7 linked regions of the Homo sapiens genome follow. The protein of the gene in region 1 purifies or fractionates together with the protein of each later gene. This does not show direct contact. Each region holds a gene or a part of one and is shown in the gene's direction. Other genes may lie near its edges. The genes, in order: SLC27A4, SPCS2, CALU, UGGT2, GCN1, XPOT and FHIP2B.

Region 1 (2,222 bases):
TTGCAGGCAGCCCTGAGGGAGCTGGGAGACGAGGGAGGGGCTGTTGCAGTTGTCCAGGTGGGAGGTGGGCAGCGGGCCCGCAGTCGCCCACAAGGCAGCACCATCTTTCTATCTGTTGGCCCATTGGTGGCTCTCAAGAGTTCCCTGGTGGGCAGGAAATGCTGAGGCTCATGCCCATACCTGCCCCTGCTTTCCTCAGCCCTTGGTGCCTCTTCTGGGCCCTCCCTGGCTGCTCACCCTTTGGAGCACATTTCCCTGGCCACCTCCCACGTTGTCGTCATATCAGTCCTGCCTTGATGGTGGGCACTCCCTAGCCAATGTGGCTTCTGCCAGAGAGTGGGTACCTGGAGTGCCTAAAGCATCGGGGAGGGTTTAGGACTTCAGTGTGGTTCTGAAGGTTGGAGACACTGTGGCCAGGCTAATGGCCAAGACCATGAGCTTCCGGAGGATTGAGCAGCACCATACTTCTGTCCAGGAAAGGCAGGGAGGCTCTCAGACCTTGTATTTCAGATGGGCTTTGCTGCAGAACAAACCACCCCCAAACTTACTTGCCCCAAAATGGCTCGAAACAACCAGTTTATTGATGCATAATTCTGTGGGTAAGCAATTTAGGGGTTAAGTGCAGCTGAGCAGTTCTTCTATTGACCTTGCTTTGGGGTCATCACTTAGTAACTTAGCTGGGGCAAGAGGCAGTTAGATGGCCTCACCCACGTGTCTGGCTCTCGGCTGCTTACCTCTGCAGCACTGTCCAACAGAACTTTCTGCAGCGATGGAAATGTTCTAGGTTTCTGCTGTCCAACACAGTAGCCACTAGCCTGGCAGAGCTACTGAGCACTTGAAAGGTGGCTGCTGGCTGGACGCCGTGGCTCACGCCTGTAATCCCAACACTTTGGGATTAAATTTTGTTTAATTAACTTAAATTTATTTATTTATTTGAGATGGAGTCTTGCTCTATCGCCCAGGCCGGAGTGCAGTGGTGCAATCTCAGCTCACTGCAACCTTTGCCTCCTGGGTTCAAGTGATTCTCCTGTCTCAGCGTCCCCAGTAGCTGGGATTACAGGCACGTGCCACCACACCTGGCTAATTTTTGTATTTTTTTTATTAGACATGGGGTTTTGCCATGTTGGCCAGGCTGGTCTCGAACTCCTGACCTCAGGTGATCCGCCCACCCTGGCCTCCCAAAGTGCCGGGATTACAGGCGTGAGCCACCATGCCTGGCCTTGTTTAATAATTTAAATGTAAATAGCCACATGAGGTCATATTGGACGGCGCCGGTCTGGGCCCTCACCTGGGATGGCTCATCTCTGCTCCACGTGGCCTCTCACCCTTTGGAAGGCTAGACTAGCCCCAGGGCACCCCCAAGCAGGTAGAGGTGGAAGATGCAAGGTCCCCCGAGGCCTAGACTCACCCAGAACTCCTACAACATTGCTTTTGCCACCTTCTGTTGGTTAAAGCAAGTTGTAAAGCCAGTCCAGATTGAGGCCAATGGAGATTGAAAAAGTCGAGCTCTTGCCAGGAGAAGTGCCAAAGCCACATAGCAGAGGTGTGTGTGTACAGGGAGGGGAGGAATCTGCAGCCATTTTTGGTAGTCTGTCTCATCCAGGTTCCAATCCCAGTTCTACCACCCTGAGCATCAGTCTTCTCATCTGTACAGGATTAATACCATTGATTGAAAGATGCGGCCAGGCGTGGCAGCTCATGTTTGTAATCCTAGCACTTTGGGAGGCTGAGGCAGGTAGCTCGCTTGAGCCCAGGAGTTCAAGATCTGGGTGGGCAACATGGCGAAACCCCATCTCTACAAGAAATACAAAACTTGGCCAGGCGCAGTGGCCCACGCCTGTAATCCCAGCACTTTGGGAGGTCGAGGAGGGTGGATCATCTGAGATCAGGAGTTCGAGACCAGCCTGACCAACATGGTGAAACCCCGTCTCTACTAAAAATACAAAAAATTAGCTGGGCGTGGTGGTGGGTGCCTGTAATCCCAGCTACTTGGGAGGCTGAGGCAGGAGAATCGCCTGAACCCGGGAGGCCGAGGTTGCAGTGAGCCAAGATCGTGCCACTGCATTCCAGCCCCGGTGACAGTGCAGGACTCCGTCTCCAATAAAGAAAGAAAGAAAGAATTACAAAACTTAGCCAGGCACAGTGGTGCACACCTATAGTCCTGGCTACTTGGGAGGCTGAGGTAGGAGGATCACTTGAGGTCGGCAGGTGGAGGTTGCAGT
Region 2 (3,500 bases), on another chromosome or scaffold:
TTATTTCTTTAAACTATATGTCATGTAACACAGTGGTATCACAGACACTGATTACTTTAATACTATTACTTTAATTACTAATTAAAATATATATATATATATATATATATATATATATATATCTGCCTGCCTAGGTACCTTTTTCAGCTGTTGCTAGCACCATTTCTCTGCTCTGATCTCCATCTTATCAAATTTCAATAGTAGTTTTTTATATTACTTAGCCTTTCAGTAGCATTTGACTTATTGATCACTTCTTTTTTCTTGAAATACTTTCTTTACTTGGCTTCTAGGACACCACTTGCCCCCAGCTTTCCTCCTACGTCAACTAGTCTTTGTTGTCTTCATTGTTCTTTGGTCTTCTTCCTGACCTGTGTAAATATTGCCAGTCCCTGAGCTTATGAGCTTATTACCCCTGGCCCTCTCCTCTGTCTACCCTCATCCCAAGGTGATACCCAATGTCATGACTTAAATAACATGTAGAAGTTGCTGACTTCTACATTTATATTCTCAACCTGGACCTTTCCTATAAGTCCCAGACTTTTCTGTCCAACCGCCTACTTGTCATCTCCACTTAAATGTCTAAAACATGTATCAGGCATCAATAGCCAGAGCCAATCTCTTGATTTCCGCTTACCCCTCAAAGTGCTTCTCTCCCAGTCTTCTTCATTTCAGGTAGATACCTCCATTCATCTAATTTATTCAAACAAAAACCTGAGAGTTACCCTTGATTCTTCTCTTTGCTTTGTACTCCACAGCCATCTCATTGTCGTATTTTCCTGGCTGTACATCCAGAATCTGACCACTCCTACCTAGAGAGCTGTAGTAGCCCTTTCAACTGGTCTTCCAGCTTCCGTGCTTGGCTCCGTTACATTTTGTTCTCCACACAGCAGCCAGACTGATGTTTTAAAACATAGATCACTCACTCTCTTGCTGAATCTCTCCAGTAACTTCCCATCTCAGTTAGCTAAACTCCAAATCCCTAATTGTGGCCTATTTTATAGCCCCTGCATGTTCTTGATCCTGCTTGTTTCTGTCATCCTCATCTGTCAGTTTCTGCTTGAGTCATTATACTCTGGAAACCCTGGCTTTTCTGCTGTTCCTCAAACACGTTAAGCTTGGGGGATTTTGGTGTACTGTTTTCACTGGGACACTCCAGATTTTCTCATGGGTTACTCCTTTATTCAACTCTGCTCAGATGTTAACTATTTTCCCTCACTATTTTTTAGTCTTTTTAAAAACTCTATTGCATTTTTCTGTATAATCTTTTTTAGAGCCTGGAATTATATGCGTATTTGTTTACTTTTTATCTTCCATACAAGAAGAAGCTCTTTGAGTGCAGAATTTGTCTTGTTTATGACTATATCCCTAGTGGCTAGAACAGTGCTTGGCACATAGCAAGCAGCCATTCAATATTAATTTAAAGAAAATAAAGAGTGTAATTGCCATAAAGGTTGTGTTTAAAAATATTATTTTTTTCTTTTAAAAGAATGTCCAACACTGGAATGAATTGCTATTGAGAGGCTTGGCAGTTTCCTTAAAAAGAAAAAGAAACCCAGAAAAGTCATATAACAGTTAATATTTTTCCAGGCAGTAGGAGATGGATTTCAGATGAAACGGCTGTATGGTCCTCTCCCTGAATTTGCACTCAGCTGCATTTTTCAGAACTGATTGCATGTAATTCTTAAATGGAGCACGTGATCTGCCACCTTTCTAGAATAAGGACTCATCGCACATCTGTATCAATGTAGTACATTCCTAGCCAGTCTTCGTGCCTTAATTCAGGTCTTCCTTGGCAGCATCCCTCTCTCTTCCAACCCTCCCCAGTCAGCTTTGCTGCAGATTGATATCCCTGAGGAAATAGGTAACATTTTATCCAAAATCTTTTTTGCAGATCCTTGAACTTGTAGTGTGCCCTTGCCCCTCTATGTCTACTTCTTACCATTTAGCACTTAGCATAGTTTATAATTCATTGTAAGTATAGGATTTTCCTTAACTAAATTGTAAAGACCATTTTTTTTGTATATCTGATTTCTTGTCTACCCATTGCAAAGGTAAGAAATTCATACTGGATGATTATGCCAACAATTCAGTCAGACTTTAGAAGATGTTAGTTGCTAGTAGTGAAAGGATTGTTGACTACATTTCAGTTTGCTGGTAGAAAAAAATACTTCGTTGTTGGAGCATTACTGATTAATATGCTGAATCAAGTTGTTTTAACTTTAAGCTCTTTTCAGCCTTAGATCTCACACTTACTGGGTTCAGTGGTGGGATGTTTAAGTCATGGATCCAGTGATCTGGCCCTCAAAGAGCTTCAGTCATGTAGGCTTCTCTATTCATGGGCTGGGTTGATGTAGAAGCAGCCCCGTCACTGCTAAATGCAGTTTGTGGTGGAGTAGAGAAGGCAGTGTAAAACCTAAGAATCAGTTTCTCTGGGGTTGTCACTAATGTGTGTGCTCATAATTTAATTAACACATGGTAATTTCCTAACTTCTAACTCCAGTGATGAATGCAGTCAGTAATAAGCACTGTTAAGCTAGTAATTTTCTTTGCAGTGTATCTTGGCCATTTTTATAAAAAATAGATTGAAATTGAAGATTCAGTGTGTTGCTAAGAGCATAATCTCTTTGAGATACCATGTTTTTGCTGAATTGGGATCTAAATTAGATGACAGTGCACATTCTTAAGATAGACATCATTTTCTTCCCAAACTGAACATTTTCCTTTCTTGCTAAATATGTGTGTGTGGGGGGGATATAGGCACTATATATTTCCAACTGAAATTGTAATCTCAGCTTCTGAGTTTGCCATCAGTTTTTATTATCTCCTTATTTTAGTTTAGAACTCCACATATACAAATGGGTATTTATCCTTTTTCCTCCTGTATTCTTCTTCTTGGAAAATGACATGATGGCTCCAACAAGTCATCCAAGCCCTAATTCTAGTAGGTGGTCATCTCTGTCTCTTCTCTTTCATGTTCCTTATAACTAGTCTGTTACTAAGTCCTGCCAATTCTACCTCAGAATACTCCCTTTCAGTCCCCCTACTGCTGCTCTGTTGAGCATTGAGGCTCTGCACTTACATCAGGCCCCATCTGCATCTCTATGTCCAGTGTTACTCCCCTCCAGATCATCTGCCAGGTTGCCACTAAAATGACTTAAAAAAAAAACGTAAATTTGATTGTTATTCCCATGCTTAAAATACTCTCCATTGCCTGCTTCAGAATAAAGTTCAAGTTCTTTAGCCTAATAACTAGGAAATGGTTTCTCTCGGATGCCTCATCTCCTACTACTTTCCCCCTTTGCAGCTTCTGTCTACTTTCTAAACTGGGATAAAGGAGAGAAAAAGTTTATTTTTCTTAAAGCCATGCTCAGTTCTGTCTAAATCAGAACAGGGTCACCATTGACACCACTCTCACCCTTGGTAATTCTTCATCTCTCCAGTGTGAATTGAGGAATCCTTTGAGTCTTATTATCAAGCCAGGGAACTTTATGAAGCAATCC
Region 3 (3,500 bases), on another chromosome or scaffold:
TTCTGGTGAATATCCATCCAGCTCAGAGAACTGGAATTTTACTACCACACCCATTTCTCCCAATTGTTAACATTGAGCAATGGGTCTTTGGTCAACCATAATAACTGTTGGATCACTCAGTGTTAACGTTCTTGTGAAGTTGAATTTAAACATCTAAATTTCCCTGAAACAATTTAAGTATTCTGTGACCAATGGCACTTTACCAAAATTGAAAGTTTGGGCCATGTATTGCTCGCAATACTGGTCCAATGGATACACTATGGACACTAAGGACAAAAACTTCCTTGAAAGCTCTAAGTTCTTACCTGAAGGGTGGGGTAGGGAGAAGTGATAAGAATTTAGAGCTTTTAAGGACATTTTTGGATGGATCGAAGAAACCAATTCTTAAGACTCATTATTATTAAAATCACACTTAACCCAGTTAGGCTTTTCTCTTTATAAATTACTGGAACGATTCATGAAAACAACTTTATAGAAGACCATTATTGGTGACATACTAATACTACAAAAGGATGATAGCTACTGGATATATTTTCTGTTCTAATCTTTTGGTTTGTGTCTAACATGCTGTCCAATAAAAATATAATACAAGCCACATATGTAATTTTAAATTTTCAGGTGAAAATCTAAAACAGGTGAAAGTAATTTTAATAATGTTTAATCTAATACATATAAAATACCATTCTTTCAATATGAAATGTAACACTTATACCAATCGCAATTCACACTAGCCACATTTCAAGTGCTTAGTAGTCACATGTGGCTAGTGGCTACTGTACTGGGCAGTACAGGCCTAGATTTTTTTTTTTTCCCAAGAAAAAAATATTAGATGTTACCCTTCGTGGAAGAGGGACAGAATTTTAGAGAGAGAAACTCATTTGAGAAATGGGAGGTGGGGAAATTCAGTTTTCACAACCATTGGTTTACTTTCTAGATCACATGATAAAAGCTCATACAGCTAAGTCTTTTGTTTATGTGTATCATATTTTTCCTAATATTATGTTGTCCATTATGTCCATAGTATATCCATTGGACCAGTATTGTGATCAGTATGTATGGCCCAATGGATACACAAAGATCTTTCCAGCTGGAAGTGATCTGTACCTATTCCTCTAAACTTTTTTTTTACTTTTTGGACAAAAGTATCCAATTTAAACTTTTTTTTTTCTTTTTCTTTTTTTGAGACAGGGTCTTGTTCCCTCACCAAGGCTGGAGTGTGGTGGCATGATCATGACTCACTGTAACCTCGTGTCTCCGGGGCTCAGGCGATCCTCCCACTTCAGCTTCCCCGGTAGCTGGGACTATAGCTGCGCCACCACACCCAGCTAATTTTTTGTATTTTTGGTGGAGATGGGATTGCCTAGGCTGGTCTTGAACACCAGCATTCCATCCGCCTTGGCCCTCCAAAGTGCTGGGATTACAGGCTTGAGCCACTGCTGCTGGCCCAGTCTAAACTTTTATAAAGTGTTGAAGTGGGTGAGGAAAATGAGAAGGGCCATTAACTTTGTATCATTTGGTTTCAATTTGGTTGAAAAGACAAAGATGCTTCAGAAATGAAGTGTACTGGCTGGTCATGGTAGCTCACACCTGTAATCCCGACACTTTGGGAGGCCGAGACGGGAGAATCACTTGAGGTCAGGAGTTTGAGACCAACCTGGACAACATGGTGAAACCCTGTATCTACTAAAAATACAAAAATTATTCGGGCGTGGTAGACCATGCCTGTAATCCCAGCTATTGAGGAGGCTGAGGCAGGAGAATCACTTGAACCCAGGAGGTGGAGGTTGCAGTGAGCCAAGATCACACCACTGCACTCCATCCTGGGCAACAGAGACAGACTCAGTCTCAACAAAAGAAAACGAAGTGCACTAAAGTAGATTTTCAAATGCTGTGTATGAAGTTATTTTTTACTGTTCCTTTCACATCTTCCCACGTAAGATATCCTTTGTCTTAGATGTCCTTTGTTTCTGCTTGAACATACATGCTCCATACCAAAAACCATATGGTTTTAGATAAATCTAGTACAGTTTTTGGTATGGATGGTGTTTTTTGTTTTTAGTGTCTATATTCATAAAACAAGAGGGCTTTGTTAAAGTTTCTAATAGCCAGGAGTTGTTATATATGTGGGCACAAAGGACGTTTTGTTTTTTTTTAAGTAGAACTTCTTTAAAGTGCAGATTTTTCATTCCTCCCTGCAGAAAGATAAAGAAGTAAAGATGGACCATTGGCTTTGTCCATCTGGGTCCTTGATGACCGTTGTAGGCAGTTTCATCAATAGTAAGGAAGCCAGGTTTCAGGGTAGCATTGGACAGTGAGGAAGCAGAGGCAGCAGGGTAGAAACTGTGGGTGAGGGAAAGGGAGGAGCAAGCATGAAGGAACAGCACAGTCTGGGAAAGACTGTGGGTAGTGGAGACCTGAGAAGCACTGATTGACAGAATGGAGGAGCCTGTTTAAGGGATGAGATTGAAAGTTTATTCAGGAGAGGGGAAGGAAGGAGAAATGGGTGAGTGATAAAGCTAAATCACTTGGCTTCTACTCTTTGGAATTCTGGTATCCTTGTATCAAGATATTAAGCCTGAAACATAAATGTAGTTTTCCCTCTAAATCACAGAGTAAACCAATCTATTACATTTCTGTATGCTACATGTCTCAAAACTTGGTACAGTATCCTTTCCAGGACCAGATTATGTTAGAGTGCATAAGTATTTATTCATATTGTAATATTTGGGGTTGGCAAGAATTGTTAGGGTATTATGCTATATTTTATTTTGAGAATGTAATCATTTGTAAAATTTTCCTAAAGATAAAGTCCCCTTAGGCATAAGGAAAATCCTTTGTTGCAGTGACTCTTGATTTTACTTGATTCTGCAAGCCTCTGTCACTATACATATTGTTGGGATATATCCCAAAACATCAACAACATATAATTCTGTTTTTTGTTTCCAAAGTTTTGTTTATCTAAAGAATTATTTGTTTATAGGCTGGGTATGGTGGCTTACGACTGTAATCCCAGCACTTTGGGAGGCCAGGGCTGGAGGATCGCTTGAGACCAGTCTGGGCAACATAGTGAGACTCTACAACATTTTTTTTTTTTTAATTTGCTGTGCATGGTGGTACACACTTGTATTCCCAGCTACTTGGGAGGCTGAAGTGGGAGGATGGTCTGAGCCCCAGAGGACCAGACTGCAGTGAGCTATCATCACACCACTATATCTAGCCTGGGTGACAGAGTAAGACCCTGTCTCAAAAAAAGAATTGTTTATAGTTTGAGATAGAAGTTTCATTTTGCCCTGAAGTAAAGGCATACTCACTTTAATGTTGTATTTATAGAGCCGCTAAATCTCGGATTTTCTGTTTACTCTTTAACTGATTTGATTGATCAGTTGAATTATTGGAGGGTCAGCCAGAGTGTTGTTCACCCAGAGCAATATTTTACAAGTGGTGCACACAGAAAGCTAATAAACATGAGAGTGTGCTGTTCATACAAATTAGACAGTACA
Region 4 (3,500 bases), on another chromosome or scaffold:
TTTAACCCAAATAAACTGAGATAGAAAAATCTAAAGATTCTCTTAGCAGGAAAAGATATTATTCACCAGAACAATAGTGCTATGTCTGGATTAGAAAGTCTTGTTCCACTGCATGGCCAAAAGAAATACTGTATCTGAAGTAGTATTTTCCTTCTTTTTGTGATGTGTTTCTTTCATTCAAAATTTTTCTTTTGAAAACTTCTTAGTGAAATATAACATATACTCAGAAAAGTGCACAAATCATGAAATTTAGCTTTGGATTTTTACAAACTCAAACATCTGTGTAAATCAGCAGCCAGATACAGAAGCCGCTAGCTACTTTAGATTTGTTCCTACCAGTTTAGAAAAGTCAAACCTCCTCTCTTCATTCAAATATTTGCTAAAATTATACATACTTACACATAATTATTTTCTGACAGCACTATACAAACTATAATTCCCTCTCCCTTTTAATTTTTCTTCATAGCACTTTTTTCTGTAGATAATAGTTTATTTCTACCTACTTCCTCTAAAATACAAGCCTCATGAAGGTCATAATTTGTATTTCTTTTGTTCACTAATGTACCCTTAGATCCTAGAACAGTGCCCGTTTCAGTGAATATTTGGACACATATTTAATGAAGAAAAAATATTCTTTTTATTTTATCTGAATGTTTTATTTTATTTTATTTTGAAACCAAAACAATGACTCCTGGCAGCTGTTGTACCCCTAATTTCAAGATTTCACAGATAAAATTGGTGCTTCTTGCATTTAAAAAAAAGTATTTTAAATCTACATTGTTCTTACAAAGTCAGAGAAAAAAATTAAACATATAACCAGAAACTAGTTTCAAGTAAGAATCAAGTGGTAAAACGCAAATTCTATATTTATTAATTCATCTTTTCCAATTCCTTTTTCATTTTCTCTCTCAGTATTTGAGCTCTTGAACTAAATTTAGCCCACAGTATATTTCATTAACTGCTTCTGCTTTAAACAGGGAATAAGCTACTTCTAAGCCTATAAGATACTCAAATATGAAATATTCAGACCATAATCACTACTTTGTATTTTTAATCCTTGAATTAAATAATGATATATCTCAAACATGAAGCTCCTGTATAGAATCTAATTTATCAGCTTAGAACTTATTTTGTGTTTTTTGTATCCTCTCTTCATCTTTACATCTCTGACCAACCAACCTGTTGACATATACATGAACTATTTGATATGTAGGTGTTCCAAGATCCAGAGGCTTTTTTTTAAGTCAGTTTTCTCAAGTCAGATGTTAACAATAAAAGTATGGGAACATTTATCTTCCATTAATAAGTTTGTTAAATAATATAGTGCACTTATTTTTAATGACGTTAAATTATATAGTTTTATTTATACTTGTGATTTCATATTTGTTAGCATTTTAATATTTCTCATTAATAAGTATGTTATAGAAGTAGTATTTAGACATCTTGCCTATTAGTTTATAACAATTTATAGGAAGCTTTACCTTTTTAATGTTATTTTTTTCTCTAAAACAAAACTACTTTCTCTTGAACATATTGTTTGATTTTGTGTGTGTGTTTTTAGGAAGTAATTCCTCACATGGCTAAAGAGTATGGATTCCGATATGAACTAGTTCAATATAGGTGGCCCCGTTGGCTTCGTCAACAGACTGAAAGACAGAGGATTATTTGGGGTTACAAAATTCTTTTCCTTGATGTTCTTTTCCCACTAGCAGTGGACAAAATCATTTTTGTTGATGCTGACCAGGTAATAAGGTTAACTACTATTTTTAGTAATACGCAAACATTTTTTACACTTCTATCTTAATATAGAGATTAATTCATGTTGCTCATGTTTATTATCTTCATTACGGTGCTTAAGATACGATTGTGATATATAAGCAAAGTATCTTTAAAAACAAAAAGTCAGAATTCCAGGGGAAAATTGAAGGTATTGTAAGAAGTACCATTTATTATTTAGGACATGGAAGTTTTCTCTCTAAAGTAGTAGTTTTTTACATTTGAGAACTAAAACAAATACTTATATTAGTCATAATAAGAGTAGTTAATGAATTCCTGTAAATTATGTGCTGATATTTGTTTAAAACTAGGAATTTCTTCTTGCTAGAAAAGCTAGCAGTTACATACAACTCTCATTCTTCCACCTTCAACAGCATTCTTTCGCATTCAACCAATAACCAAATTCTCATCACTCTATCTCTTAAGGAAAAGAGCATTTTAAATTTGGCCAGCTTATGCCTGTAGTCTCAGCACTTTTGGAGGCTGAGGTGGGGAGGAAAGTTTGAGCCCAGGAGTTAGAAGTCACAGTGAGATATAATCATGCCACTGCACTCCAGCCTGAGTGAAAGAGTGAGACCCTATCTCTAAAAATAAAAGCAAATAAATTTGGCCAAAAAAAAAAAAAAAACACCCAAGGCCCTCTGCTTTCAAAATTTATATGTCCAAAAATTATGACTTTTCCTTTTTCCCTCCTTGCATTGCTTTTGCATCATTAGTGGGAAAAAAAAATTGAAAATACACAGAATTTCTAAGAAAAAAGTAATATGTAAATGAAAATATAAAGTAAATGGATAAGTTAGAATTTATGTGGAACAAAAAGTATATTTCAATTTCTTTTAAGAGACAGGGTCTCACTCTGTCATCCAGGCTGGAGTGCAGTGGCACAGTCATAGCTTACTGTAGCCTCAGACTCCTGCATTCGAGCCATCCTCCCACCTCAGCATCCTAGGAGCTGGAACTCCAGGTGCACACCACCACGCCTGGCTAATTTTTTTTTTTTTTTTTTTTTTTTTTTTTTTACAGACAGGGTCTCACTGTGTTGCCCAGGCTGGTCTCAAACTTCTGGCCTCAAGCAATCCTCCCATCTGAGCCCCACACATAATATCTAATATGATTCTTTCTCCTACCTTTCTTTCAATGTGTGCACTAATATTTTTCTAGAAGGCTTGAGCATATTAAAAAATAACATTTATATTATTTTATTCAAGCTATTTAGAATAATTGGGAGATTTTTCTTTATGATTCAAACTTAACATTTGCCAATATACAATAATGGAGATTTGGCATGGAATGATTTTGTTATTCATACATTGAGAAACTAAGAGCTCTGCACTTACGTAATATTTAACCCCTTCCCCAAATGTCTGATTCGTAAAATGACTTGTTTATAAATGACATAACAAAATATTCTTGTTGGTGAGTAAGACCACTGTCTTAAAGACTAGGAATATAAATTTTAGTTTACCTTTAACCTGTAAGGACAAGAGGAATAAATGTTAAATTCAGTAAATTCATATTACATGAAAGCACTGTGAGGACAATACAGCTCTTTGGATTTCTGTAGTAGAGTAATAATGATTTGAGATTCCCATAAAAAAGGGCTTATGTTATTTTACAGTCTTTATCAGACAGTCTATTTTAATTATTTAGATTGTGAGACATGATCTAAAAGAACTTCGAGATTTCGATCTGGATGGAGCTCCTTATGGGTATACTCCATTTTG
Region 5 (3,500 bases), on another chromosome or scaffold:
CTCCATACCAGTGGCAGCCCAATCTGGCAGGGGAGCACGAGTGCCTACAGGAAGGACTGGATCTTGAGTCTCTGAGTTGGCTTTTCCACCTTCTTTGTTGCTGTCCATCCTGGGCTCTAGAGCTGCCTGCCTTGGTTCCCACACAGCTGGTGTTGTTCCCTGCACCCCCTCACTCCCTTCTCTTCCCTGTCAGGACAACACTCGCATCTCCTCAGCCGGGTGCCTAGGGGAACTGTGTGCCTTTTTGACTGAAGAGGAGCTTAGTGCCGTTCTACAGCAGTGCTTGCTGGGTAAGTACACTGGAGAGTTCCCCTTCAGGGACCTGGGCCTCTCAGCCCTAGCGAAGAGTCGACGGGCATCTCCCTCCCTCCCTCAGAGGATCTTTTAGCAACTGGACTGTCCTTTCCTTGGGAATCCAGCAGTTAAAGCAAAATCCAGGCCAGGGGTGGTGGCACTCACCTGTAGTCCCAGCTACTCAGGAGGCTGAGGTGGGAGGATCAGTTGAGCCCAAGAGTTGAAGGTTGCAGTGAGCCTTGATCACGCCCCTGCACTCTAGCCTGGGCGACAGAGCGAGGCCCTGTCTCTAAAACAAACAAACAATACTGAATTTGCAGTGGTCCCGTAGCCCTGAGTGTCTCTGCTCAAAGAACACAGCTGTAAGCCCGGAGTGGTTCATGAGCAGGCTTTCCTTACTTTCCTTAATGTGCCACTTTGGGGAGCTTCTGCCAAGATAGCAGGGAGGTCCATGTGAATGTGGCCTGGAGTTTTCCTTGTGCTCTGGGTCAGCACACTGGTCTCCAGCGGGGTGGGCCCATGGGCCTCATGGGTGCTGGGGACATGCTGTAAAATACCGGTTGATCCCAGTCGTGTCCTTCCACCCAGCGGACGTGTCCGGCATTGACTGGATGGTTCGGCACGGGCGGAGCCTGGCACTTTCCGTGGCTGTGAATGTGGCTCCTGGCAGACTTTGTGCCGGCAGATATAGCAGTGATGTTCAGGAAATGATCCTGAGCAGTGCCACGGCGGACAGGGTAAGGCATTCGGGCCATATCCCATAGGCATAGGCCACATCCCATAGGCAGCACCTTGTGGACACAGCGCGGGTGGACCCCAGACTGGGGCTTAAGAAGCTTGGGTCTAATTTTACCTTTGTCAGTAACTTGCTGTGCCCTTGGACCAGCACTTGATCCCTTTGGGCCCCAGTTTCATCATCTAAACAAGGAATTTGGGTTGAAGAATCTAGATGCCCCTTCTGGGTCAGGTCTTGGATCCCTGTTCCTGGGAACCAGTGACTGTACTCATCTGCCTCAGCCGGGGCAGCCTGCCTGAGAGCTGTCATGGTGTAAGGGGTGATGTGGTGGTGATGTAGTGGAGGGTCCTGGAGATTACTAGGAACTGGGGTTTTCCTGGCTCTGGGGAAGGGGTGGGGGGCCTCCCGTCTAGCGCTGTCTGTTCTCCACAGATCCCCATTGCGGTGAGCGGGGTCCGGGGCATGGGCTTTCTCATGAGACACCACATCGAGACAGGCGGAGGGCAGTTGCCGGCCAAACTTTCCAGCCTGTTCGTTAAGGTGAGTGGGGGCCAAGCATGTGTTTAAGCCCTAACACCTGGCTTGTGAGGAGGTCCTAGGATCAGAGACCACCAGCAGTGCGCCCTCAACTAGTTGTGTGCTAGTTCTCCGTGGACGGCCTCCAGGAGATCGCTGAACACTTAGGGATGGAATGTAGGGGGTTTCTGTGTGTGCTTTACACTGCAATAAAGCCTAACTTTTTGTCAGATTCTCAAATTGACCCGTGACTCTGAATCAAGTTAGGAATCGCTATTTTAGGCATTCTTTCTAGGCACCGTAGTTTTGTAAAATTAGATACAGACCTGGGTTCCCATCTTAATACCTCTCTTTTCCCTCCTTCCTCTTCTAGTTGGCCCAGCACTTCTTGGTGTGGTTACTGTGCTATGTGCCAGGCCCTAGTTAGGAAAGCCAAGGAATGTGCCAGCAGGGCTCCTGTGGCCCGTGTGATATGGCGTGCTTCTGAAGCATTACTGTGCACAGAAGTCAGAGCCAGGGTGTATTTTAGTGAGATGGGGCCATGCCTGGTACTCTAACCAGCTCTCAGCAACAGTGTCAGTGGTGCTGTGCATGGACCTTGCCTTGAGTAATGAGGTTCCCAAGAGTGACTGCCTCCCCCCGCAGCACCGGGAACCCACGGAGTTTCTGAGGGGCCTGATTCGATTGAGCCTCGTCTGTGATGACATCAGCCTGCACCCGCTTGTTCACTTGGCATTATCCTGAAGGTGTAGAGATGAACAAGGCAGACAGGATCCCTGGAGCCCATGGGGAGGACCCTGATATAGATAAGATTGGCAGGGGGCACCTCTAAAGGATGACATGGGAGCTGAGACCTGCAGGATGGGAAGGAACTAACCTAGAGAGGATCCGGGGCAAGCACGGCCCAAGCTGTGGGACCAGCCAGGGCAGAGGCCCGAGGCCCTGGGATGTTGGAGGAAGTAAAAACGCATGCGGGCTGAGAGTAGTGAGCAAGGGGAGAGTGGCATGAGATGAGGGTGCAGGAAACCAGGGTCGAGTCATGCTGGGACCCTCCCACAGGAGCAGGGGGGGTCAGTGTTCATGCTGTAGGGAGAGTGTCGAGGCTGGGCATTTGGGCTGCTTCAAGGAATAGATGACATGCCTATCCAAAAGCCTGTTTGTGGTTCTTTTTACAGTGTCTGCAGAACCCATCCAGCGACATCAGGCTGGTGGCTGAGAAGATGATCTGGTGGGCAAATAAGGACCCACTGCCTCCCCTGGACCCCCAGGCCATCAAGCCCATCCTGAAGGCTCTTCTTGACAACACCAAGGATAAGAACACCGTGGTCAGGGCCTACAGCGACCAGGCAATTGTCAACCTCCTCAAGATGCGGCAGGGTGAAGAGGTGTTTCAGGTGGGAGCCTGGGGGGCCTCACCAGGATGTGCTGTGAGCATTTGTCTTTCAGCTCTTCTTCAGCATGGAAATATTTAAACCACAGGCTCTTCTCTGCCACCACGGATGTGCTAGCTTTCAGGAGCAGATTAAGATTTGGGTGACTGGGGCCGGGCGCGGTGGCTCGCGCCTGTAATCCCAGCACTTTGGGAGGCTGAGGCGGGCAGATCACCAAGTCAGGAGATGAAGGCTAACACGGTGAAACCCCGTCTCTACTAAAAATACAAAAAAATTAGCCAGGCGTGGTGGGCGGCTTTGTCCCAGCTACTCAGGAGGCTGAGGCAGGAGAATGGCGTGAACCCAGGAGACGGAGGTTGCAGTGAGCTGAGATCATGCCACTGCACTCCAGCCTGGGCGACAGAGTGAGACTCCGTCTCAAAAAAAAAAAAAAAAAAAAAAGATTTGGGTGACTGGCCCAGTACCTGAAAACATACATTCCCATGGTTTTCAGACTTCTTTCCGAGCAGGGCCCTTTCTTCAAATAAAATCTCACATGACACCCAAACAGACATAGCAGATCC
Region 6 (4,109 bases), on another chromosome or scaffold:
CTTTAGCGACATCTTGTAGCCACTAGCCTGACATTTTAAACACATAAATTAGAAACATGATGCAAGAGTGATTCAAGGTATTTTATATAGGAAATGCCTGGTGTAGTGTCTTGGACAGCTAAATAAAGGTAGCTGTTAAAACATTAGTTTTATTCTATGCTCTTACCATTCCTCCCTCTCCAAGTTTTGTTTGTAGTCTGTGGCAGCAACCTAGTCTGTATTTAGTACACATTGAATAATCAACAATGAAATGTAAATATTGAGCACATTGTGTGTCAAACACATGTATTAACTCAAACCTCACAGAAACCCTTTGAGGTCGGTACTATTAACAATCCCCATTTTACATACGAGTAAACTGAAGCATGGATAGACTAAAGTAAAGTGCCTGAGGTCAACTAGTGAGGAGGCGGAGTGGCAGTCAAGTCGAGGCAGCCTAAGCCTACACTGCCTCTATGTTGCATTAATAAATTAATAAATCTGTGACCAAATAAATGAAGTGACATTTAGTAGCATCGAAAGATCCCGTGAGTAGGACTTCCTAAGAATGCTCTCCTTCTTTTCATGGACAAAATTTTAGTCTGTTTAAAATAAATTTTGGACCGGACACCGTGGCTCACGCCTGTAATCCCAGTACTTTGGGAGGCCGAGGCAGGTGATCACTTGAGGTCAGGAGTTCGAGATCAGCCTGTCCAACATGGTGCAACCCTGTCTCTACGAAAAATACAAAAATTAGCTGGGTATGGTGGCGCGCGCCTGTCATCCCAGCTACTCAGGAGGCTGATGCAGGAGAACTGCTTGAACCCCGGAGGCGGAGGTTGCAGTGAGCCAAGATCTCGCCATTGCACCCCATCCTGGGCGACAGAGCGAGACTCCGTCTCAAAGAATAAATAAATAAATTAATTAATTAATTTTGAAAACCTGTCAGCACTCATCAGAGCTTTACACTGCTGTACTCGGGACACTTGGGGCCGTAGACAAGCAATTAAATTGACTCACACGTGGTTAGAACCACGTCATCCTGATTCGTGAATCCGTACTCTCAACTACTAGAAGCCCTTTGTGGAATGCTCGGGGCGAACCTGACGCTTGAGCTCTGACACCACGCAGACACAGCCGGGGATTTAGGAGCTGGGTAGGGACTCCTGGGCCGGATGCCTCATCCCGGCATGCACCTCAAGCCCCGGTGACCACGCCTTCCGGCGAGCGCCAGGGAGCGCGTGTGCGCCTCGCCGCCCGGAAGCGCCGGCCGCTCCCTGCATGCTGGGAGTTGTAGGCCTCCGGCGTCAGCCCGCGGGCTGCCGCCCGCACTCTCCAAGAGACTGCTGGCGCCGGCGCCCGCCCGCGCGGCACCGACGCGGGGAGCGCGCTTCGCGCTGACTCAGCGGCGGCGGCGGCTGCGGCGGCGGCGGCGGCGTTAGCCGGCCCTCGCGCTCTTTCCCTTCCTGGGGCGCCGACCCCGCCCGCTTGCTTGCTTGCTTGCTTGCCTGCCTGCCTGCCTGCCCGGCGCCACGCAAGAGAAGGTGCCAGGGGACGCAGAGCGACTAGAGGCGCGCGGTCCCGGCCAGCACCGTCTCTGGCGTTGTAGCTGCGGCCGTGGCGGAGGACTACGGCGACAAGGACGAGGGCCGCTCTCCCAGCTCTCTGCGTGCCGCGCCGCTCCGCTCCGCTGGCTGACCATCTGGAGTGCAGGCTGGGAGGCGGGATGGAGTGATAGGGAAGGTGACTCGGGGCTCGGGGGCAGCGGGACCGGGACCAGGTTTGGTCCGCGTGAGGCTTCGAGGAAGTTGGCCGGGGCGGACCGGCCCGGGGGAGTCCCGACGCCAGGGAGGGTGCAGGCTTGGGACCCTCTATGGCGGTGCACCCCCTGGCTGGGCGGACCGGGTGGGGGTGGGTACGAGCCGGGGCCGCCGCCGAGGAGCGCGTCCCGAGTGCGTGGCCGGCGGTTGCTTGGTGTTTCATCACCCGAATTGCCACGAGGCTTCCTTTAGGGGAGGGATCGGGGGAGGGATGGGAGCAAGGCTAGCAGAGGAGGGTCGGCATCGCCTGTGGTTCCGAAGCCCGTTAGTCATCGTTGTAGCGTTATCAACTGTGGAGACCTCAAACTTGATTCTTCCCCCACCCCTGGACAAAAAGGAAAAGTGTTATTTCTGTGCAGTAATTGGCCAGCACGGACGCTCCATTTCTTCTCAAACCTTCCTCACCATCCTGCAGGACTAGAGAAGCATGAGGTTTCCCTGTAACCAGAAAAACGAGTACTTTTTGAAAGTGCTAATTAGTTGTGGCGGGCGGGGGTTGGGGGAGAGTTACGTTTTATTAAACCGACTTGTCAGCGTGGTGTTAAAAGGCTGGAAAGATTCAGTCGTAGTATTTGAAACAGTCTTCAGTAGGTGTAGAGGAATTTTTCCAAATTGTTTGATTCTTAATGGCTATCCAGGAAAAGTTAAGGCTTAATATTTTAAGTATGTTGCTTGCCTTCCCCCAAGAACCTTTGCAAGATGCATAATTGTTTACCGTATTGAAACATTTTTTGGGGTTTTGTTGTTGTTGTTTTGAGACGGAGTCTCGCTCGGTCGCCCAGGCTGCAGTGCAGTGGTGCCATCTCGGCTCACTGCAACCTCTGCCTCCCAGGTTCAAGTGATTCTGCAGCCTCAGCCTCCCGAGTAGCTCTATTACAGGTGCGCCCCGCCACACCTGGCTACTTTTTGTATTTTTCGTAGAGATGGAGTTTCACCGTGTTAGCCAGGATGGTCTCGATCTCTTGACCTCGCGATCCGCCCGCCTCAGCCTCCCAAAGTGCTGGGATTACAGGCGTGAGCCACCGCGCCCGGCCTTCCACTGCATATTGATCGTCCAAATGCCTTCTATGTGGGGGATTCTTTCTGTAGTGACAACTGTTAACTAGTTTGTTTCCTTGGGTTTATTGGCTATGTTTTCCTTAGGGCCACTTCATTTTTCTCCCGATAGCTTCAGAGTGACTTGACCAAGCTTAAGCACTTTTTCTTTTTTTTGACACAGTGTCTCACTCTGTCGCCCAGGCGGGAGTGCAATGACACGATCTCCGCTCACTGCAACCTCCCCCTCCCGGGTTCATGCGAGTCTTCTGCCTCAGCCTCCTGGGTAGCTGGGATTACAGGCGCAGGCCACCATGCCCAGCTAATTTTTGTATTTTTAGTAGAGACGGCGTTTCACCGTGTTGGTCAGGCTGGTCTCGAACTCCTGACCTCGTGATCCGCCCACCTCGGCCTCCCAAAATGCTGGGATTACAGGCGTGAGCCACCGTGCCCAGCCAGCAATTTTTTTTAGATGGAGTTTCGCTCTCGTTGACCAGGCTGGAGTGCGGTGGCGCCATCTCAGCTCACTGCAACCTCCGCCTCCCGGGTTCAAGCGATTCTCCTGCCTCAGCCTCCCGAATAGCTGGGATTGCAGGCATGTGCCACCACACCCGGCTAATTTTTGTATTTTTAGTAGAGACGGGGTTTCTCCATGTTGGTCAGGCTGGTCTCGAACTCCCGACCTCAGTTGATCTGCGCCCCCCTCCCCTCGGCCTTCCTTAGTGCTGGGATTATAGGCGTGAGCCACCCTGCCTGGCCAGCATTTTTTTAAAAAGCCATAGCAAATTCAAGGAAGCTTTTATTGGACTTCTCAATCAGGGATTCTTAGAAACTCCGAAATCGTTTTTTCTCTCTGTGGGCATTTTTCAGGGGAATGGACATCAGATTTTCTTAACATTTAGGGGGCGAAGGGAACCAGTGCCTTTCTTTGTGTTTTTCTGTCTTTTAAAAATGCTGATCTGGTATAAGAATGCCCCAAGTCGTTTCCATTCCACATGTTCCTACCTCTGACTATAAACAACGTATTGAGGGCTCACTATGTGCCAGCCATGCTCTGCATACCTTATCTCTTTGAAGCCTTTACAACTTTATGAGGCATATGGTCTTTTTCCCATGTCATAGAAAGGGTTCTCTCAGGTTTTGTAAGTTGTCCAAGTGGCCCCAATTAAAAAATGACAAGATGGGGATACAAACCCAGGTCTTTGAAATCCAAAACCTATGCTCTACTATGTCCTAGGGACATAGTGATGGATAGTCAAGACAGTCCTTGCCCTT
Region 7 (3,131 bases), on another chromosome or scaffold:
GGTCCAGGAGCTAAGCGGGGCCCCAGGCGGGCCGGGACCCTCTCCTGTGGCATCAGGCGCCGCGCAAGAACACGGTTATTTCTCAGCTGGAATTGTAATGAGGGCAAAACACATTGGCGCTCTCTGGCACCCAGGTGGTTGCGGACGCCTTGGCGAAGGCTGTGGCTGAGAACTTCTTCGTGGAGACCCTGCAGCCCCAGCTCCTGCACGTGTAAGTGTCTAGTTCCCTCAGGCATGACTGTGGTCTACAGTAAACCACCTACCCCACCCAGCCTCGTCCTGTCCCTAAGGCCAGACACCTTCTTGACCAGAATCCCATTTGTGGACCCCATTGGGTGATGTTTGCCAGGCCTGCCCCATGATGTGCACGTGGCTCTGAGCTACGTGGGCTAAACGAAGGCCTCCTACCCTTCCCTGCAGGACCTCAGCAGGGATGGGCAAGTGACCACAGACATACCAGCCAAACATGCGAGGCAAGCAGGAAGGGTTCGGCCACCCGCACTCATGTGCTGTCTGCACACACCGGGCCTGGCTAAGGTGCCCTCTTCCCGTAGGTCCGAGCAGAGCATCTTGACCTCCACCGCCCTCCTCACAGCCATGCTGCGCCAGCTTCGCTCCCCTGCGCTGCTGCGGGAGGCCGTGGCTTTCCTCCTGGGCACAGACCGGCAGCCTGAAGCCCCCGGGGACAACCCCCACACCCTGTATGCTCATCTCATCGGGCATTGTGACCACCTCTCTGATGAGGTACAGTGGGGGACCTCCATCTCTGTTCCTCTCACCACCCCTGCCAGAGGGATTTCCTGAACACTCTTCCCATTTCATTAGTGTTCCCAGTTGACTCCACCTTTGAGACACTGAACTGCAAAACACTGCCGAGCCACTTTTATCACACACTAATTTTCTATGATCATATACTTTTTTTTTTTTTTTTTAAAGAGACAGGGTATTGCTCTATCACCCAGGCCCTGGAGTGCAGAGGTGTGATCATAACTCACTGCAGTCTCCAACTCCTGGCCTCAAGCGATCCTCTCACCTCAGCCTCCTAAAGTGCTGGGACTGCAGGCATGAGCCACTGTTCCCAGCTTATTTTTTTACAGTATTTTATATTTTGCACACTTGGCTCGCTGGAAGGCTAACACGTACTACTTCGTGAGGTAGGCGAGGTTGATACTCCCATTTCTCAGACATGGAAAGTAAGGCACGGAGAAGCGAATTGGCTTGCCTGAAATTGCACATCAAATTAGTCACATACCAGGGACCACCCAGACTTCTGGATTCCTAGGCCCACACCCCCCAACTACCCCCAAAACCTGCCACCTTAGCATCCAGCCAAGGGAGGTGACTCTGCCTCAGAGGTCTTTTCTTATCTGGGTTAGCCATGCCAAGGCACCCCTGGGAGCTGGGTGGGGAAGGGGCTATCCTGCCGACCCCCTTCCTGCTCCAGATCAGCATCACCACACTCCGGCTGTTTGAGGAGCTGCTGCAGAAGCCCCACGAGGGGATCATCCACAGCCTGGTCCTGCGCAACCTTGAGGGCCGCCCTTACGTGGCCTGGGGCTCACCAGAGCCTGAGAGCTATGAGGACACCCTGTAAGTGAAACCGGCGCCCTTTGGACTCAGCCCAGCCCTTAGCACTCGCACGCTCACTCTGTCCATTCATTCACTGGTGCCGTACTGCTCTGCCCTGGCCACAGAGACCTGGAGGAAGACCCCTACTTCACCGACAGCTTCCTGGATTCCGGCTTTCAAACTCCCGCAAAGCCTCGCCTAGCTCCTGCTACCAGTTACGATGGCAAAACAGCAGTGACCGAGATCGTCAACAGGTGGGGAGCAAGTTAGGCAGTCTGAACCACTTGAGTTTTATTTTATTTTATTTTATTTTTTGAGATAGAGTCTCGCTCCGTCACCCAGGATGGAGTGCAGTGGTACAATCTCGGCTCACTGCAACCTCCACCTCCCGGGTTCCGGATCCAAGCGATTCCTGTGCCTCAGCCTCCCGAGTACCTGGGATTACAGACATGCACCACCACACCCAGCTAATTTTTATAGTTTTAGTAGAGACTGGGTTTCCCCATGTTGGCCAGGCAGGTCTCGAACTCCTGACCTCAGGTGATCCGCCCACCTCAGCCTCCCAAAGTGCTGGGATTACAGACATGAGCCACCGTGCCTGCCCTGAGTTTTACTCTTTGGCCACAGCCCTGGGGTCCAGTCAGGGAGGGAGATGGGGTCCCACAAGCAGGGGAGAGCAGGGTGAGCCGGGAGCGCCTCCACACCGGCTTCTATCTCTCAGTTTCCTGTGCCTGGTCCCCGAGGAAGCCAAGACCTCTGCCTTCCTGGAGGAGACAGGCTATGACACATACGTCCACGATGCTTATGGCCTGGTGAGTGGCTCCTGCTACCAGCTCCCACTTCCTGTCCTTCAGAACAGCTGGGTCATAAGCTCTGGGTTCCGCCTCTCTCATCTGCCCAAGGACCCCAGCCCATCCCTCCTGCGTGGGGCCCTGTCTGCTGGTTCCCAGTCCCCAGGCCCACTGCCTCTACTTTCCCGCCTGTCTCAGTTCCAGGAGTGCAGCTCCCGCGTCGCCTCCTGGGGCTGGCCTCTGACCCCCACACCTTTGGACCCCCATGAGCCCGAGCGACCTTTCTTCGAGGGCCACTTCCTCCGAGTGCTGTTTGACCGCATGTCCCGGATTCTGGATCAGGTAGCTAGTGGGCCTGGGCCAGGAGAACTCCAGGCTGGTGCCTCTGGGGTCCTTCAAGAGCAGAGGTTGGCCACAGGGTTGCCTCTGCTTCGGTTCTTTGGTGCCACCCCTGTCCTTTCCCCAGGTGGGAAGCCCCGTCTCACCCCTGCTCCACACGTCCTAACACGTTCTGGCCCTCAGCCCCATGGAATCCATGACACACACACATCACGTGAGCCTCCCACCCCCACACACGTTCACAGTGGCCAGGCACCTTGCTGGGGGAGTGCAAAAATACTCACCAGCCCTGCCAGCCCTCGGCTCTGTCCACCATGTTCCTACAGCCATACAGCCTGAACCTGCAGGTGACCTCGGTCCTGTCCCGGCTTGCCCTCTTCCCCCACCCCCATATTCATGAGTACCTGCTGGATCCGTACATCAGCCTGGCCC

The links.
Region 2: the proteins of SLC27A4 (region 1) and SPCS2 purify together in Homo sapiens (affinity purification with mass spectrometry; one large-scale study listed by BioGRID and IntAct). This does not show direct contact.
Region 3: the proteins of SLC27A4 (region 1) and CALU purify together in Homo sapiens (affinity purification with mass spectrometry; one large-scale study listed by BioGRID and IntAct). This does not show direct contact.
Region 4: the proteins of SLC27A4 (region 1) and UGGT2 purify together in Homo sapiens (affinity purification with mass spectrometry; one large-scale study listed by BioGRID and IntAct). This does not show direct contact.
Region 5: the proteins of SLC27A4 (region 1) and GCN1 purify together in Homo sapiens (affinity purification with mass spectrometry; one large-scale study listed by BioGRID and IntAct). This does not show direct contact.
Region 6: the proteins of SLC27A4 (region 1) and XPOT purify together in Homo sapiens (affinity purification with mass spectrometry; one large-scale study listed by BioGRID and IntAct). This does not show direct contact.
Region 7: the proteins of SLC27A4 (region 1) and FHIP2B purify together in Homo sapiens (affinity purification with mass spectrometry; one large-scale study listed by BioGRID and IntAct). This does not show direct contact.

The regions. Positions count from the first base shown.
Region 1 is NC_000009.12:128,357,527-128,359,748, forward strand, and holds part of SLC27A4 (long-chain fatty acid transport protein 4), read left to right. Parts: intron 1-2,222. UniProt on the Homo sapiens protein: Mediates the levels of long-chain fatty acids (LCFA) in the cell by facilitating their transport across cell membranes. Appears to be the principal fatty acid transporter in small intestinal enterocytes.
Region 2 is NC_000011.10:74,955,766-74,959,265, forward strand, and holds part of SPCS2 (signal peptidase complex subunit 2), read left to right. Parts: intron 1-3,500. UniProt on the Homo sapiens protein: Component of the signal peptidase complex (SPC) which catalyzes the cleavage of N-terminal signal sequences from nascent proteins as they are translocated into the lumen of the endoplasmic reticulum.
Region 3 is NC_000007.14:128,742,359-128,745,858, forward strand, and holds part of CALU (calumenin isoform a precursor), read left to right. Parts: intron 1-3,500. UniProt on the Homo sapiens protein: Involved in regulation of vitamin K-dependent carboxylation of multiple N-terminal glutamate residues. Seems to inhibit gamma-carboxylase GGCX. Binds 7 calcium ions with a low affinity.
Region 4 is NC_000013.11:95,854,402-95,857,901, reverse strand, and holds part of UGGT2 (UDP-glucose:glycoprotein glucosyltransferase 2 precursor), read left to right. Parts: intron 1-1,561; coding exon 1,562-1,744; intron 1,745-3,426; coding exon 3,427-3,500. UniProt on the Homo sapiens protein: Recognizes glycoproteins with minor folding defects. Reglucosylates single N-glycans near the misfolded part of the protein, thus providing quality control for protein folding in the endoplasmic reticulum.
Region 5 is NC_000012.12:120,128,716-120,132,215, reverse strand, and holds part of GCN1 (stalled ribosome sensor GCN1), read left to right. Parts: intron 1-193; coding exon 194-290; intron 291-882; coding exon 883-1,031; intron 1,032-1,462; coding exon 1,463-1,570; intron 1,571-2,721; coding exon 2,722-2,940; intron 2,941-3,500. UniProt on the Homo sapiens protein: Ribosome collision sensor that plays a key role in the RNF14-RNF25 translation quality control pathway, a pathway that takes place when a ribosome has stalled during translation, and which promotes ubiquitination and degradation of translation factors on stalled ribosomes.
Region 6 is NC_000012.12:64,403,083-64,407,191, forward strand, and holds the start of XPOT (exportin-T), read left to right. Parts: upstream 1-1,309; 5' UTR 1,310-1,722; exon of another isoform or gene 1,723-2,678; intron 2,679-4,109. UniProt on the Homo sapiens protein: Mediates the nuclear export of aminoacylated tRNAs. In the nucleus binds to tRNA and to the GTPase Ran in its active GTP-bound form. Docking of this trimeric complex to the nuclear pore complex (NPC) is mediated through binding to nucleoporins.
Region 7 is NC_000008.11:22,099,150-22,102,280, forward strand, and holds part of FHIP2B (FHF complex subunit HOOK-interacting protein 2B), read left to right. Parts: intron 1-134; coding exon 135-211; intron 212-554; coding exon 555-744; intron 745-1,444; coding exon 1,445-1,590; intron 1,591-1,694; coding exon 1,695-1,823; intron 1,824-2,290; coding exon 2,291-2,381; intron 2,382-2,558; coding exon 2,559-2,702; intron 2,703-2,826; coding exon of another isoform or gene 2,827-2,865; exon of another isoform or gene 2,866-2,913; intron 2,914-2,995; coding exon of another isoform or gene 2,996-3,025; coding exon 3,026-3,131. UniProt on the Homo sapiens protein: Able to activate MAPK/ERK and TGFB signaling pathways. May regulate the activity of genes involved in intestinal barrier function and immunoprotective inflammation. May play a role in cell proliferation.